Regions from separate parts of the Homo sapiens genome. Here regions 2 and 3 are each linked to region 1. Evidence: fine-mapped expression QTL. A gene starts in region 1. Each other region holds a variant in brackets. All regions are shown on one strand. Distances are from middle to middle.

Region 1 (5,226 bases):
GTGGAACCTGACACCTGGGAAGGGGTGAGGGGCCACAGGGGCTTCCTTGGGTGGAGGATGGCGGGAGAGGAGGGGCCCATCCTGAGGATCCTGGCCACAGGCTATTCCCTCAGCCCAGAACTGCGCTGCATCCTTCTACTGGGCCTCCGGCTTCAGGCCTCCTCCGTTGTCCCATCCTCCCAGAAGCATTCCATGAGCCCTGCCCCCTCCCCAGCCTGGGTCAGGCACCTCCCCTAGGCTTCCAGGGTCCCCATCCTCCCACATCACAGCCCTGATGGCCTCTGTCTCTGCTCCTCAGTCCCTCACCAGGCTGAGCTCCCCGAGGCAGGGCCCACGGCTCTGTCTTGTTTTCTATGGAAGCTCCTGCTTCCTCCCCACAAATATTTGTCAAGTGTGTAAGGACAATCACAACAGCCTCTGTGCTGGGGACTGCACTACCCTTTGCGAGCATTAGCCATTTATTCTAATTCTCACCACAACTACATTTGGTGGGAACTGTTATCCCACTCCTCAGCTAAAGAAACTGAGGCTCGGAGAGGTCAATGTCACTCTCAGAACATGCAGCCTGCAAGGGGCCACCAGGATTTGAACTCAGGTCTGTCCAATGCAGCAGCCAGCACTAACCACTCCAGCAAATGTCTATTAGGAGACCCTGGAGAGCTGGGCTGGTGCGGGGTCAGGGTCAGATTCCCCAACCCAGCACACTCTCCAAGTGTCTGTTGATTGAACAATGCCCTTCCACCGCCCCTCCAGTGAGGCCCCCAACTCCGGCCTCCACTGCCTGTGTGACCTCAGCAAGCAGCGGTCCCTCTCTGGGCCTCAGGCTCTGTGACTGTAAAAGGGAGATGGGAAAAGGCGGTGTGAGTCAGGAGGATAGGGGCTGATAGAGACAATGGAACAGGGTGGGACTGTCCTGGGCCTTGTAGGCTGTTCACAGGATTCCTGTCCTGGACATGCTGGATGCCAGTAACACCCGCTGGGTCACAACCCAAACTGTCTCCAGGCACTATCAACTGTCCCAGGGAGACGGGAGGAGGTAAAATTGGCTCTGATGAGAATGGCTGCCTTAACCCTGTACCTTGGGGTGGGGCAGGGAGTGGTCAGCACGGGGTGGTCTGGGTGCTGCAGCCCCGGAGAGCATACAGGAACTGTGGAGTCCAGAGCCCGAGGCCACCCAGAGCTAGTGAGGATAATGAGGGTTTTAGTGAGACCTTTCTGCAGCACCTGTATGTGCCGGGCAGTGTGGATACAGTCACTCTCTTTATCCTCCCGAGAGCCCTGGGAGGGAAGCACAGAGAGATGCGGTGACTGGTCCAGTCACACAGCTGGTGAGTGGCAGAGCCAGAATGTGAAGCCAGGCCCCCAGGCTCCAGAGTGTGCACATCAACACCACCCCCGCAACACTGCCAGGGCAGTGGGGCTGAGGATGGAGGGCAGGTGTGAAGAGGAAAAGGAAGCTCTGGATTCAGCAGGAGGCAGCTTCACAGGTGGCACCTTAGGAGTCCCTGACCCTGATCTCTCAGCAAGGCATTATTAAACACCTCCTGTCTGCCTACTGTTCCAACCAAGACGAGAGTAATGAATCATCTCGAGCTGCTCACCTCATGAACTCCTGTTCCTTCCTGTCGGGGATGCTTCCTACCTGGGACACATTTCCCAGCCTCTCGCCAACAGTCAGGAACCAGGCGCCTGCCAGGTGCCCATATCTGCATGTGCATTTAACAGATGCACAAACTGAGGTCAGAGAGGCCAAGCAACTTGCCGAGAACACACAGCAGTTGAGGAGAACTCGGTGTTTTGCTCTTTCTCTCTCCAGGTCTTCCTCTAACCTGAGCTCGCCTACAAGTGGCTCAAGCCTGCCCTGGACTCCTCACAGGAATCACAGCATTCTGCTGATGGAGCTCACGGCCCTGGTGAGCAGCCCCCTCATCTTCACAGAGTGCACATGCGCTTTCTCTGGAGGTTTCTCTGCCTCCGAGAGCCAAGGATGCAGCCAAACAGGGCCCAGCAGGAGCCCAGGGACTGAGCAGGCCTCACCGTGTCCCCTGAACAGCCCCGCTCGGCCAAGCCTCTGGAGGGGGAGCTGCTTCCCTCAGCGTGGCCACAAGCCCCGTCTGCCTCCATCTCCAGCCAGTCACCACCCAGCCCAGTCCTCCAGCTCTCCTGGTCCTCCCAGCAACCTCCTGACTCCCAGTTAATATTCTGTCTTCCTCCTCCAGACACAGCCCACCATGGAGACGGTGGCCAGGTGCCACTCCACCCAGGCACCACTTACCTGGGGACGTACAGGTGGATGTCCAGGCAAACAGGCCACTTGCGGGGTCTCTGGTCCCAATGCCAATGGAGAGCCGGTTCTGGGTGAGGAATCGGGGCTTACAAAGCCGGTTTGGATTTCCCTGCAGCCCAAGCCCCCAGCCTGAGAGGGAGGCCCTGCCGCTCACACTCTCCGCACACACCCCGGGGGAGGATGTCACACCCCGCCAGGGTTTCTCACTCATGGATGGGGGGGGTTCATCCTCTGCCAGGTCTCCCAGAGCCCCCTGGGGTGGCCCTGGTGGCAGGACACAGGCAGAAGGCCCGAGGACAGCCGCTTACCTGAATGCCCCAGCAGCAGCTCTGAGGCCCACGGTGGGCCAGGCCTGCCCGGAAGGCCTGGTGTCTGCTGAGCTCCGGCAAGCAGGCTTGTCTGAAACTAACCTATTTCCTGGATGCGAAGACAGGAAAGGGGGCTGTGTTTGATGTTTACATCAAAGTCACAAAGTGCTGTGCTCAAGGAAAATCACAGGCCACGTGCTCCAGGGAGGCAGAGGGCATTTCCGGGGCCCAGCACTGCCTGCCCAGCTGCAGGATGGGACTGAGAGATGGGAATGAGGCTAAGCAAAGGCAGGGTTTCAGGAAGGACGACTCCAGCAGCAGGAACCGTCAGAAGGGAGGAAGCCTGCATACCTGGAACCGGAGGGTAGGCAGCAGTGGTGGGAAGGAGGGGAGTCCCAGGGCTCATGGAAACTGGAATGCCCCCATTTTCCCCTCAAAGGGGCGTCGCCCTGGGGCCTGCACCAGCTAGACAACCCAGAGGAGTGATTTGTTTATTCCACAGGCAGGTTAGAGCTGGAGGGAGGAGAAACCCACTGAGTCAGCCCATACCCCGAAGGTGAGAACCCCTTCTGTGCCAGGCATCTGGATGGCAAGGACAGCCTGCCCTTGCTCTCCAGTGGCTCGCAGGCTTGTTGGGGGCAGCTGAGTCCACAGGGAGCCAGGGCTGGGAGGCCGGAAGCCTGGGCACTGTGTGTCCCCAGAGTATCCCCAAGCCAGCCTGGAGGATGTCAGGGATGCGTTCCAGGAGGAGTCAGCCACCCAACCGAGACACAGAGCCAGGGCATCCCCAGTGCTAGCCCGGCCCACCTGGGACCTTTCCCACGAAGCTGAACCTGGCTGAGTGCCATCCCGCTGTGGCCACCACCTCCTCCTCCTCTTCCTCTCCTCCCTTCCCTCACCCTGTGCACCCCCTACCCTTGGGCCTGGGGCCACACCTCATGCACTCTCTCAGAGAGGGGCCTGCAGAGCCACTCCCTCGGCTCCATCTCCCCTCTAGTGCCCCAAGGCCTCTGGGAGCCCCTTGCCCACCACCTCCTTGCTTTCTTGGGCACTAAGGGAGTCGTCACAGCTCTCCTGTCTGTGGGGCCTCAGAGACCTGTGTGGAACTGCCCTGGGCCCACTGTGGAGACTCCTAAAGCTTTTCTTCTTGGGGTCCTGCTGCCCTTGTTAAGTGGGCTTGTGATACCCTACCTTGTTTTAACCTGAATTGACTCTCCCTTAGCTAAGAGAGCCAGACAGACTCCATCTTGGCTCTTTCATTTGCAGCCCCTTACCCACCCCGCTTCCTCAAGGACTTAATTTGTGCAAGCTGACTCCCAGCACATCCAAGAATGCAATTAACTGATAAGATACTGTGGCAAGCTATATCCGCAGTTCCCAGGAATTCGCCCGGTTAATAGCACCCAGAGCCCCGGCGTTTGTGTCCGGTTGATAACGCCCAAAGCCCCGTGTCTATCACCTTGTGATAGATTTTAAGCCCCTGCACCTGGAACTGTTTGCTTTCCCGTAACCATTTATCCTTTTAACTTTTTGCCTGCTTTACTTCTGTAAGATTGTTTTAGACCCCCACCTGTCCTTTCTAAACCAAAGTATAAAAGAAAATCAAGCCCCTTCTTTGGGGCTGAGAGAATTTTGAGCACTAGCTGTCTCTCAGTCGCCAGCTAATAAAGGACCCCTGAATTCGTCTCAAAGTGCGGCGTTTCTCTGTAACTCGCTCGGTTACAACAGGCTCAGCTCCCCAGTCTGCCTGAGGATCCCCTCACACCCTACCCCGAAGCCTCCTTGGGGACCTCCTTTCTGGCCCTCTACTATCCTCTGGCCGCCTGAATCCCCTTTAGAAAATCTGAGTTCCGGCTCTAGGCTACTTTTCTCCTTCATACAGCCCCCTCCAAAATGGTGTTTGCTAGCAGCCTCCCTTTTCCCCAGCGGCATCTTGAAACTCCAGGTGCAGCAAGCATCCCTTCACATCCATGCTGGACGCTCATTTCTTGGAGTATTGAGAGAAAAAGACACCGGCACCCTGAAGAGAGGAGAAATTACAGCATCAAATCACATTCATACTACAATAATGAGAGTCGCACTGATTATGTGCCAGACATTGCTGTACGCACATCACAATTAATAAGCCATTCAACCTATTTTCCAGATAAGGTAAGTAAAGCCCAGAGAGGTTAAGAGATGCCAAGTGGCCAGGTGGGATTGCAGCCCAGGCAGCCTGACCCCACCCACGTGCTGCTGGACATAAAAGAAGAAAACTTTGGTTGTAAAATATCTCCCCGAAGGAGGCCAGCGCCCCAGGGAGCTGGAAGCTGAGCCAGCTATGGGACAGGGTGCCTCTGTGTGGGTGGGGGGCTTCCAGTTTCCAGGGTCTTCAGGTCCTGAGAAGGGGATTCCCAGCCTCTGCAAGGCACTGGCCCTACAACCCTTGAGCCCCCCACTTCCTGTCCCAGAGGCTGGTCTGGAAACTACAAAGCCCAGTGCTCAGACAGCTCTGAGATTGGGCTACAGATAATCCGAGATTGGCATGCAGATAAGGTCCTCTGTTCTGCCAGAGTGGAAGGAGGTGGATGCATCTTTTGAATGTTTACAGTAAAGGGCAAACGGATGGAAATGTGGGCTAGGAAAGTTGCG
Region 2 (5,226 bases), 150 kb before region 1:
TAAACACTAACCAAAAGAACCGTGAAAGGGCTGTGTTAATTTGGACAAAGTAAACTTCAGAACAAGCACTATTACTGGGAATAAAGGGGGATATTACATAAATATAGAGGGGTTAATTTAGATACACAAAAATAACAACTCGAAATATGCATGCATCTAACAATGGAGCTTCCGAATACTTGAAGCAAATATACCCTTAGGGCATGGGATTTTAAGAATGGAGTAAGGAGCTCAATGGACCACCTCAACAGACAGTACTTTAACTAATGAGAATTATTTTTTAAAAAGTTATTAAAGTTGCAGGAAATTATTCATTCAAAAAAATGTTGTAAATCTTCATAAGAACAGTGGCAGTCTCTGGCATTTGGGCTACAACCTATTCTATTATGCTCCCCACCACATACCCCTCAAGCCCCAGCTCCTTGTTATAGAAGCTCCCTCTAACCCCAGTTTATACTCTGGGACTGCAGTTTCACCCTGAGAAGGGAGGGCTGCTAGCATTTCTCATCATCTCCAACTTTATGTTGCAGAAGTTCTATTTCAGGCACATTTCAGAAAGGACTGGGTCTCTCTTCACCCACCCCACTCTAGGACAGATGCTGTATCCCAGATGCAGCAGGCCTGAAACCTGGGGAACCCAATCTTGCTCACCTCACTAGTAGGATAAGTTCCACACTAGGAAGAGCAAGCTGAGAAGACCAGGGTCTACCACCCCTTCCCCAGTGACCACTACTTGTACAGCAGGGCATCACTAGGGGAAAAGCATATCAGACAACACAGACTTTAAAACCAAAAAGTTACTACAAATAAAGATGGACATTTTATGATTACAAAAGGGTCAATCCAGGGAGATATAACAATTATAAACATATATATATATAACTAATAACAGAGACTCACCCAAAATATATGAAGCAAAACTGCCAGAACTGAAGGGAGAAATACACAATGCGACAGTAATAATGACAGTCTTCAGTATCCCCATTTTCAATAATGGCTATACCATCTAGGCAGAAGATAAAGATATAGAAGACTTGGAAAAAGTATAAACCAACTTGACTTGTAGACATCTGTAGAACACCATGCTCAACAACAGAATACTTATTCAGCTCAGGCATATGTAGAATGTTCTCCAAGATAGACCATATGCTAATCCATAATACAAACACTAGTAATTTTAAATGGATTTAAACAATACAGGCTGAACATTCCTAATCTGAAAATCCAAAATGCTCCAAAATCTGAATTTTTTTGTGTGCCAACATGATGCTCAAAGGAAATGCTTATTGAAGAATTGCAGATTCTCAGATTAGGGTTGCTTAACTGATAAGTGTAATGCAGATATTTCAAAATCTGAAAAAATCTGAAATTCAAAACACTCATGGTTCCAAGCATTTCAGGTAAGAGGGATACTCGTCCTGTACAAAGTATGTTCTCTGTCTTAATTTTCTACTGAAATAAATTGGAAATCAAAAAAGTCTTGGGATAATAAACATACTCCTTAATAATCAGTGAATCGAATAAATCAAAAGGGAAATTAGAAAATACTTCGAGATGAACAAAAACAAAACATATCAAAACTTACGGGATGCAGCAAAAACATTGCTGGGAAGGAAACATATACACACCAAAATATCTCAAATCAGAAACTTAACCTTCTCCCTAAAAAAACTAGCAAAAGAGCCAACTAAAGCAAACAGAAATAATAAAAACTAGAGGAAATAAATAAAATACAGAATAGAAAAACATAACAAAATCAACAAAACCAAAAGTTGGTTCTTTGAAAAGATCGAATTGTCAAACCTTTAGCTATACTGACCAGGGAATAAACAGAAAAGACTCAAATTACTAAAATCAGGAATGTAGGAGGTGACATTACTGTCAACTTTATAGAAAGAAGATTACAGGGCAATTTTATGAACAACTGTATGCTAATTCATTAACTTAGTTGAAATGGACAGATTTCCGGAAAGACCCAAAATACACAAACTGACTCACGGAGAAATAGAAAATCTGAATAGACTTATAACAAGTGAAATGTTTGCATTAGTCATTTAAAAACTTGCCAGAAAGTGGCTGGGCACGGCGGCTCACGCCTGTAATCCCTGCACTTTGGGAGGCGAGGCAGGCGGATCACGAGGTCAGGAGATCGAGACCATCCTGGCTAACGGTGAAACCCCACGTCTACTAAAGATACAACAAAAATTAGCCAGGCGTGTTAGTGGGCACCTGTAGTCCCAGCTACTCGGGAGGCTGAGGCAGGAGAATGGCGTGAACCCAGGAGGCGGAGCTTGCAGTGAGCCGAGATCGTGCCACTTCATTCCAGCCTGGGTGACAGAGCGAGACTCCATCTCAAAACAAAACAAAACAAAAACTTGCCAGAAAGCAAGCCCTGCTCCACATAGCTTTACTTAAGGAT[T/C]CTATGAAACAATCAAAGAAGAATTAATACCAATTATTCCCAAACTCTTCCAAACAATAGAAAGGGAAACAATTCCCAGCTTAGTCTGTTAGATCTGTATTACCCTAATACCAAAACCAGACAAAGACACTACAAGAAAATATAGACAAATACTTCTGCTGAATATAGACGCAAAAATCCTCCACAAAATGCTAATAGATTATAAAAAGAATCTAGTGTACACCATGACCAAGTGACATTTATCTCAAGAATGCAGGGTTGGTTTAACATTGAAAAAATCAATACAGGGAAAACCAATAATCAAGTCAATAAACACAGAAAAAACATTTGAGATAATAACATCCTTTCATGATAATAATGCCTAACAAACTAGGATAGACGGGATTTTCTTCAACCTAATAAAGAGCATCTATGATAACCTGAAGGCTGACATCGTACTTAATGGTGAAAGAATGAAAAAATTCCCCCTACATCAAGAACAACACAAGGAGATCTATTCCTGTCACTTCTCTTCAACATTCTGTTCCAAGTTTGACCATGGCAATAGACCACATTACAATCTATCACAACATTGTGTGTGTTATCCAATTAATTTACTCCAAACATATCATGTTACTTGGGTGTGTGAACTTATGAGCTACTGTCTGGTAATGCGTATTGAGAAGGGCAGAAGGCCAAGCCCTGGTCTTTGTCTCTTCTTGTGAATTTAAAAGGAGAGATAATCCCCAAAATGGAGAGCCCCAGTTCCATACATACACATAAAAACTATTGATTGCCCCATATTTGTCACCACTCTTAACTGACAATGCTTAGGCAGAAGCATCGTGGGACAAAGGTGTCTTCCTAAATCATAGTTCAGTAGCCCTAGGACTGTGGAGGACCAGAGAGAGATGTTAGAGGAGAGCATTTCAAGGGCAGCTGCTCATCAACTCCTTACCCTGGCAAGCTTTTCTATTCTAGGTTGAAGGATCTGGCTCTATCTCAAGGCAGACAGGGAAGAAAGTGGAGAATAATAAAGTTCGGAAGCCTTCTCATAGCCTAGCCTCTCGTTGTCAGCTCAGGCTGCCCATTGACACTCACTTTCCTTTGCCTGCCACTTTAAGGCAGCCTTCAGTTCTCCCAAGGGCTTCTCACTGTTTTTTGGTTATTTCTTGGAGTCAGTACCTCCCTCTAACTTCTAAATTTTTTCAGCATTATTGTTGTGGGGAAGGAAGATGGCAGGAAGAGCCAGCATGTACTAAATCACTATCTTTAAGGAACCTAAATTAGCCCCTGATTAATTTGTTGCTTTTTTTTAAAATTATTTTAAATTTTTGTGGGTACATAGTAGATATATATATTTATGGATTACCTAAGATATTTTGATACAGGTATGCAATGCATAAAAATCACATCAAGGTAAATGGGATAGTCATCACCTCAGTCATTTATCTTTTGTGTTACCAACAATCCATTTATATTATTGTAGTTATTTAAAAGGTACAGTTAATTTTTTTTTTAACTGTAGTCACCGTGTTGTGCTAGGAAATGCTAGGTCTTATCCATACTTTCAGTTTCTTTATACGTATTAATCATCCCCATTTCTACCCATCCCCGCTGCTATCCTTCCCAGCCTCTGGTAACCATCCTCCTACTCTCTATCTCCATGAGTTCAATTGTTTTGATTTTTAGCTCCCACAAATAGTGAGAACATGGAAAGTTTGTCTTTCTGGGTCTGGCTTATTTTACTTAACATAATGTTCTCTAGCTCCATCCAGGTTGTTGCAAATGACAGGATCTCATTATTTTTCATGGTTGAATAGTACTCCATCGTGTATATGTACCACATTTTTTTTATCCATTCATCTGGTAATAAACACTTAGGTGGCTTCCAAATCTCGGCTATTGTGAATAGTGCTGTAATAAACATGGGAGTACATAAAACGCTACAATATACTGATTTCCTTTATTTTGGGTGTATACTCATGACTGGGATTGCTGGATTGTATGGTAGCTCTACTTCTAGTTTTTTGAGGAACCTCCAAACTGTTGTTCCTAGTGTTTGTACTAATACATTCCCACCAACATTCCCTTTTCTCCATATCCTTGCCAGTATTTGTTGTTGCCTTTTGGATAAAGCCATTTTAATTGGAATCAGATATCTCATTGTGGTTTTGATTTGCACTTCCCTGATAGTCATATTGAGCATTTTTTATATACCTCTTTGTCATTTGTATGTCTTCTTTTGAGAAATACCTATTCAGATACTTTGCCCATGTTTTAACCAGGTTATTAGATTTTTTCCTTTAGAGTCATTTGAGTTCCTCATATATTCTAGTTATTATTAATCCCTTGTCAAATAGGTAGTTTGCAAATATTTCCTCCCATTCTGTGAGCTGTCTCTTAACTTTGTTGATTGTTTCCTTTGCTGTGCAGAAGCTTTTTAAGTTGATATGATCCCATTTGTCCATTTTTGCTTTGGTTACTGGTGCTTGCGGAGTATTACTCAAGAAATCTGTGCCCACTCCAACGTCCTGGAGAGATGCTAACTAATGTCCCTTTCTTTCAGTTTGAAAGAACTCCCATTAGCATTTCTTGTAAGATATATCTGATGTTAGTGAAATCCCTCAGCTTTTGTTTGTCTGGGAACGTCTTTATTCCTCTTTCATATTTGAAGGATATTTTCGCTGGAAAGGATATTTTTGCCAGATATACTATTCTAGGGTAAAAGTGTGGGGGTTTTTTTTGTTGTTGTTGCCTTCAGCACTTTAAGTATGTCATGCCAGTCTCTCCTGGCCTGTAAGATTTCTACTGAAAAGTTTGCTGCC
Region 3 (5,226 bases), 32 kb before region 1:
CATGTCCTGCCCACAGCCTTCCACACTACAAAGCAGCCATCTTCACAACAGATGGCTCGGCCAGTCACCAATAGCAAAAAAAAAAAAAAAAAAAAAAAAAAAAAAAAACCTCGTGCCAGTACAGGCCAGGTCCAATAGACACTCTTCTGACAGCAGGATTTTTTCACACTGAGATAAAATTCACATCAAACAAAATGCACTTTAACCATTTTAGAGTATAAAGCTCACTGCTTTTTAGTGTATTAACAGTGATGGGCAACCATCACCACTCTCTCATTCCAGAACATTTCATCAACACTGCCACCTCCCCCACCTCCAAAAACAACTTCCATGCCCATGAGCAGTCACTACCCACTGTCCTTCCCCTAGCCCCTGGCAACCACTATCTACCTTCTGTCTCTCTGGATTTGCCCATGCTTAACACTTCATATAAATAGAATCACACAATATGTGGCTTTTTGTGTCTGGATCCTGTCACCTCGGTAAAGTCTTTGAGGTCAGTGGCTGCTGTGGCATATGTATCAGTACTTCATTCCTTCTTATGGCTGAATAAGGCTTCCGTGTATGTATATACCACACATTTATCTACTCATCTGTTGATGGACATTCGAGTTACTTCCACTTTTTGGCTGTTATGAATAATGCCACTGTATACACAATGCATTCATGTACCAGTTTTTGTGTGAACATACGTTTTCCATTCTCTTGAGTATTACCCAGGAGTGGAATTCCTGGGTCAGATGGTTAATCTATGTTTAAATTTTTAAAGAACTGCCAAACTGTTTTACAAAGCAGCTGCACTTTGTAACATCCCCACCAGCAATGCACGAGTGATCTGACTTCTCCACATCCACTCCCACAGTTGTTTTTGCCCATTTTTCCTTTACCTTTTTTTTTCTTTTGGAAGTGCTATCTCATTTGCATTTCCCTAATGATTAATAATGTTGAGAATCTTTTCATGTGCTCATTAATGAGTCAATGGTATGTCTTAAAGAAATGTTTGTTCAAATCCTTTGTCCATTTTTTACTTAGACTGTCTTTTTATTGTTGATTTATACAAAGGTCTTTATATAAGTTGGATGTTAGATTCTTCCCCAATATATGATTTGCAAGTACTAGGCCCATTCTGTGAGTTCTCTTTTCAATTTCTTGATACACTTTTCTTGTACAAAGAGTTTCAATGTCATGAAGTCCACCTTCTCCATTGTTTTCTTTTGTTGCTGGTGCTCTTGTGTCTTAGTCTGTGTGTGCTGCTGTCAACAAAATGCCTTAGACTGGGTAATTCATCAACAACAGAAATGTATTGCTCCCAGCTCTGGAGGCTGGGAAAACCAAGATCAAGGCCACTCCTGTCCGGGTGTGTCACCAGCAAAATCTGCCAAGCCCTTAACCTCCTCTGAAAGTTCTGCTCACCTCCTTGCTGAAGCCAAAACTTAAAAACACAGGTCTATAAATTGTGGCATAGACAACGTTGGTTGTGCTTGAGCAAGAGACCTTCCATTGTATTTTAATCCTCACTGGACTTACAGAGAGTAACTGTATATTTTGTGGCGGTGGTGGGTTTTTTTAAGCTATTTTTAAAATTGTAGTAAAACATATTTAATAATATTTGTCATTTTAACTTTCTAGGTGCACAATTCAGTGTCAATTACATTCACAGTGTTGTGCAACCATCACCCCTATCTATTTCCGAACTTTTCCATCATTCCCAACAGAAACTCTGTAAACGTGAATCCATGATTCCTCATTGCCTACTCCCCCCAGCTCCTGGTAACTTCTATCTGCTTCCCGTCTCTATGAATTTGCCTGTTCTAGATATTTCCTGTAAGTGGAACCATACGATGTTTGTCCTTTTGTGTCTGGCTTCTTTCACTAGCATATTTTCAAGTTTCCTCCATGCTGTAGCAGGCAAGAGAGTTTCCCTCTTGTTTCAGCTGGATAATGTTCCATCAGCTGGATAATGTTCCATGGAATGTATACACCTCATTTTGTTTATCCATTCATCATTTGATGGACATTTGGGTTGTTTCAACCTTTTGGCTATCGTGAATGATGCTGCAGTGAACATTGGTTTACTATTATCTGAGACCTTGTTTTCAATTCACTGGGGTGTATACTTAAAAGTGAACTGCCGGGTCGATGGTCAGCCCATGTTTAGCCTTGTAGGGAAACATCAAACTGCTTTCCACAGAGGCTGCACCATCTCACATCCCCACCCACAGTGTGTGAGGGTTCCAATTTCGCCACACCCTCAGCAGCCGTAGTTACGGTGTGTGCACACGGCCATCCTAGGAGGTGTGAGGTGTGGCTTGTCACTGTGGTTTTTATTTTCATTTCTCTTATGATTAATGAAGTTCACATTTCATGTGTTTGTTAACCATTTGTATAGCATCTGTGGAGAAATGTCTGTTCGAGTCTTTTGCCCAGTTAATTGAGTTGGATATTTTTTTGTTGTTGGATTGTAGGAATTCTTTATGCATTCTAAACACTAAATCCTTATCAGATAAATGATTTGCTAACATTTTTCTCATTCTCTGGGCTACCCTTTGATGATGTCCTTTAATTTAAAAATTAAAAGGTTTTTTGGCCAGGCACAGTGGCTCATGCCTGTAATCCCAGCACTTTGGGAGGCCAAGGCAGGTGGATCACCTGAGGTCAGGAGTTCGAGACCAGCCTGGCCAACATGGTGAAACCCCATCTCTACTAA[G/C]AAGACAAAAATTAGCTGGTCATGGTGATGGACACCTGCAATCCCAGCTACTCAGGAGGCTGAGGCTGGAAGATTGCTTGAGCCCGGGAGGCAGAGATTGTAGTGAGCCGAGATTGCACCACTGCAGTCCAGCCTGGGGGACAGAGCGAGACTCCGTCTCAAAAAAACAATAAAACAAATAAAAATTAAAAACAAAAAGTAAAAGATTTTTATATTGATCAAGTTCAGTTTATCTATTTTTCTTTTATTGCTTGTGCTTGGAGTGTTATACCTGAGAATCCACTGCGAAATCCAAAAATATTTACCTCTTTGTTTTCTTAAGAGTTTTACAGTTTGGGCTCTTATATTTAATATTTAGGTCATTGATCCATTTTAGTTAGTTTTTTTATATGTGTGAGATAGAGGTCTGACTTTTTGTTTGTTTTGTTTGTGGAAATCAAGTTGTCCTGGTACCATTTGTTGAAGGGATTATTCTTTACCCCAATGAACAGACTTTGCAGCTGTGTCACCTTCCCTGGATCCTTCCCTGTTATTCTCTGTTCTCTTTTTCAGACCATGGAGAAGCTCTCCTCCCTCTGGCCCATGAAACCTTTCAGGAATTTGATGGATCAGCTATCACATTCCCCTGGCCCCATCCCCAGTTTGCTTTCCTCCATGGAAGGAAGTAATATTTAATAAGCAGCTACTAAGTGCTAAACTAATGCATTGTTTCACTTCACATCACTACTCAGAAAGGTAAACACAGTTATTATCACCATGTGACAAATGAGAAGACTGAAGCTCCCCAAGGTTAAGTAACCTCCCTGAGGTCTCACAGCCAGACTGCAGAGTCCAGGGCCTTGTCATATTATACCGAGCTAATCTGCCAGTTTTGGTTTTTTTCACTTCGTCCACCAGAACAAAATTTTGAGTTTATTTAGCGTGTCTACAGGGTAGAGGCCATTCTCCCAGCTCTCTGAGGAAGAAGGTGTCCAGGGAATGCAGAGCTAGCAATGAGTCAGAGCTGAGGGGAGCACCGGGCCAGGGCCTGCCGAGGAGCGGGGAGTGGATAGGGTTTCGCTGGGTTCAAATTCTCCCTCCTAGCTGTGTGGACTGGGGCAAGTCAGGCCACCTCCCTGAACTTCCGGTGCCTCATCTGTGAAATGTTTACAGATGGTGAAATTGGACTTTCATTCAAGATGGCAGACCAAGTACACATAGAAACCATTCTTCAAACACTTAGCAATGACAGGAAAATACCAGGTATACAAGAGACCACTGCAGAGATGCCCAGAGACAAGGGTTGAAGCCCCCCACCACCTACCCATTAGGAGGCTAGTACCAATGCAGGGCCCCCTAATGTATGAAGCCAAGAGCACAGGCTCTCATATACAGCCCTTACAAGATACACATGCAAGAAATATTCTGAAGAGACAATGGATTCACAACCACTTCATGAAATTTCCACAAACTCCCCAACTGGAAGAATTTACGTCTGAGGAAATAGAGAATAATAGTGCAACCTTAAAAGAATTTTGCAATAAATATATTAAAAACTCAAAGAGATAAAGAAGGGAATAACAGCCATAAACAAGAACAGGAGGCCGGGTGCAGTGGCTCATGCCTGTAATCTCAACACTTTGGGAGGCCGAGGCGGGTGGATCACCTGAGATCAGGAGTTCAAGACCAGCCTGACCAATATGGTGAAACCCTATCTCTACTAAAAATACAAAAATTAGCTGGGCATGGTGGCGGGTGCCTGTAGTCCCAGCTACTCAGGAGGCTGAGGCAGGAGAATCGCTTGAACCCGGAACGTGGAGATTGCAGTGAGCCAAGATCGCGCCATTGCACTCCAGCCTGGGCAACAAGAGCAAAACTTTATCTCAAAGAAAAGAAAGAACAGGAGACTATGAGACAAAAGCAGGCAGATATAAGAAAGAACCAGGAGCTCATATGTGAAAAGTTTCATTGCTAGAATAAAAACTCCACAGAAGCGGAAGTGGAGAGCCAGAGGTGGGAGGGATTTAACAAGGCCACATGGGATTTTAGTGGCAGCCACGGAGCCAGAACCAAGGCCTAACTCAGGAGTTTGGTTCCGAGGAGGATGAATGTATGTGCTTTCTTCTCCCTTTTTTTCTTTCCCATTTCTCTCCCTGAAGTATAAGGTTGGTGCTGAGCTGAACACCACAGCCCCTTCCTAGATGAGAAACAGGGCTTCCATGCCTTGATTGGGCAGGGTGGGACAAAGAGTTTTGCCTCAAGATGGAGAGCTAACAACCTCTGTCCTCTAGAACATGAATTAAACAGAACCTTAATGTCTACAGAGGAGTTTGTTAAATGAAGCCCAGAAAAGCTGCCAATAGAGTTGCCTCTTACATATTGGCCTTGGGATAGTGGGCATGTTGGGTCTGTAAACCAAGTCCTCAGAGCCTTGGTTTCCTCAACTGTAAAATGGGTTCAAGAGTCCCCACCCCAGGCAGATGTTTTGAGAATTAAACAGGAAGTTGTGTGTTCGAGGCACCCAGCACATCAGAATTGCC

The links. PIP is the estimated chance that this variant, and not a neighbour inherited with it, causes the effect.
Region 2: its variant is fine-mapped to the expression of ZAP70 in whole blood (TOPMed, PIP 0.98).
Region 3: its variant is fine-mapped to the expression of ZAP70 in whole blood (TOPMed, PIP above 0.99).

Annotation. Positions count from the first base shown.
Region 1 is chr2:97,711,044-97,716,269 of GRCh38, reverse strand. ZAP70 (zeta chain of T cell receptor associated protein kinase 70) reads right to left here and starts at 2,694. Exons shown (of 14, transcript NM_001079.4): 1 at 2,596-2,694; 2 at 2,276-2,354. RefSeq lists enhancers at 1-165, 166-681, 1,913-2,886 and a silencer at 4,860-5,049.
Region 2 is chr2:97,863,029-97,868,254 of GRCh38, reverse strand. All of the region lies in intron 4 of TMEM131 (transmembrane protein 131), which reads left to right. Among named protein-coding and RNA genes, the nearest start is that of TMEM131, 130 kb to the left of the region's middle. The variant T/C (reference allele first, on the strand shown) is at 2,420.
Region 3 is chr2:97,742,698-97,747,923 of GRCh38, reverse strand. It overlaps a transcript of ZAP70 not described here. Among named protein-coding and RNA genes, the nearest start is that of ZAP70, 32 kb to the right of the region's middle. RefSeq lists a silencer at 2,174-2,283. The variant G/C (reference allele first, on the strand shown) is at 2,708.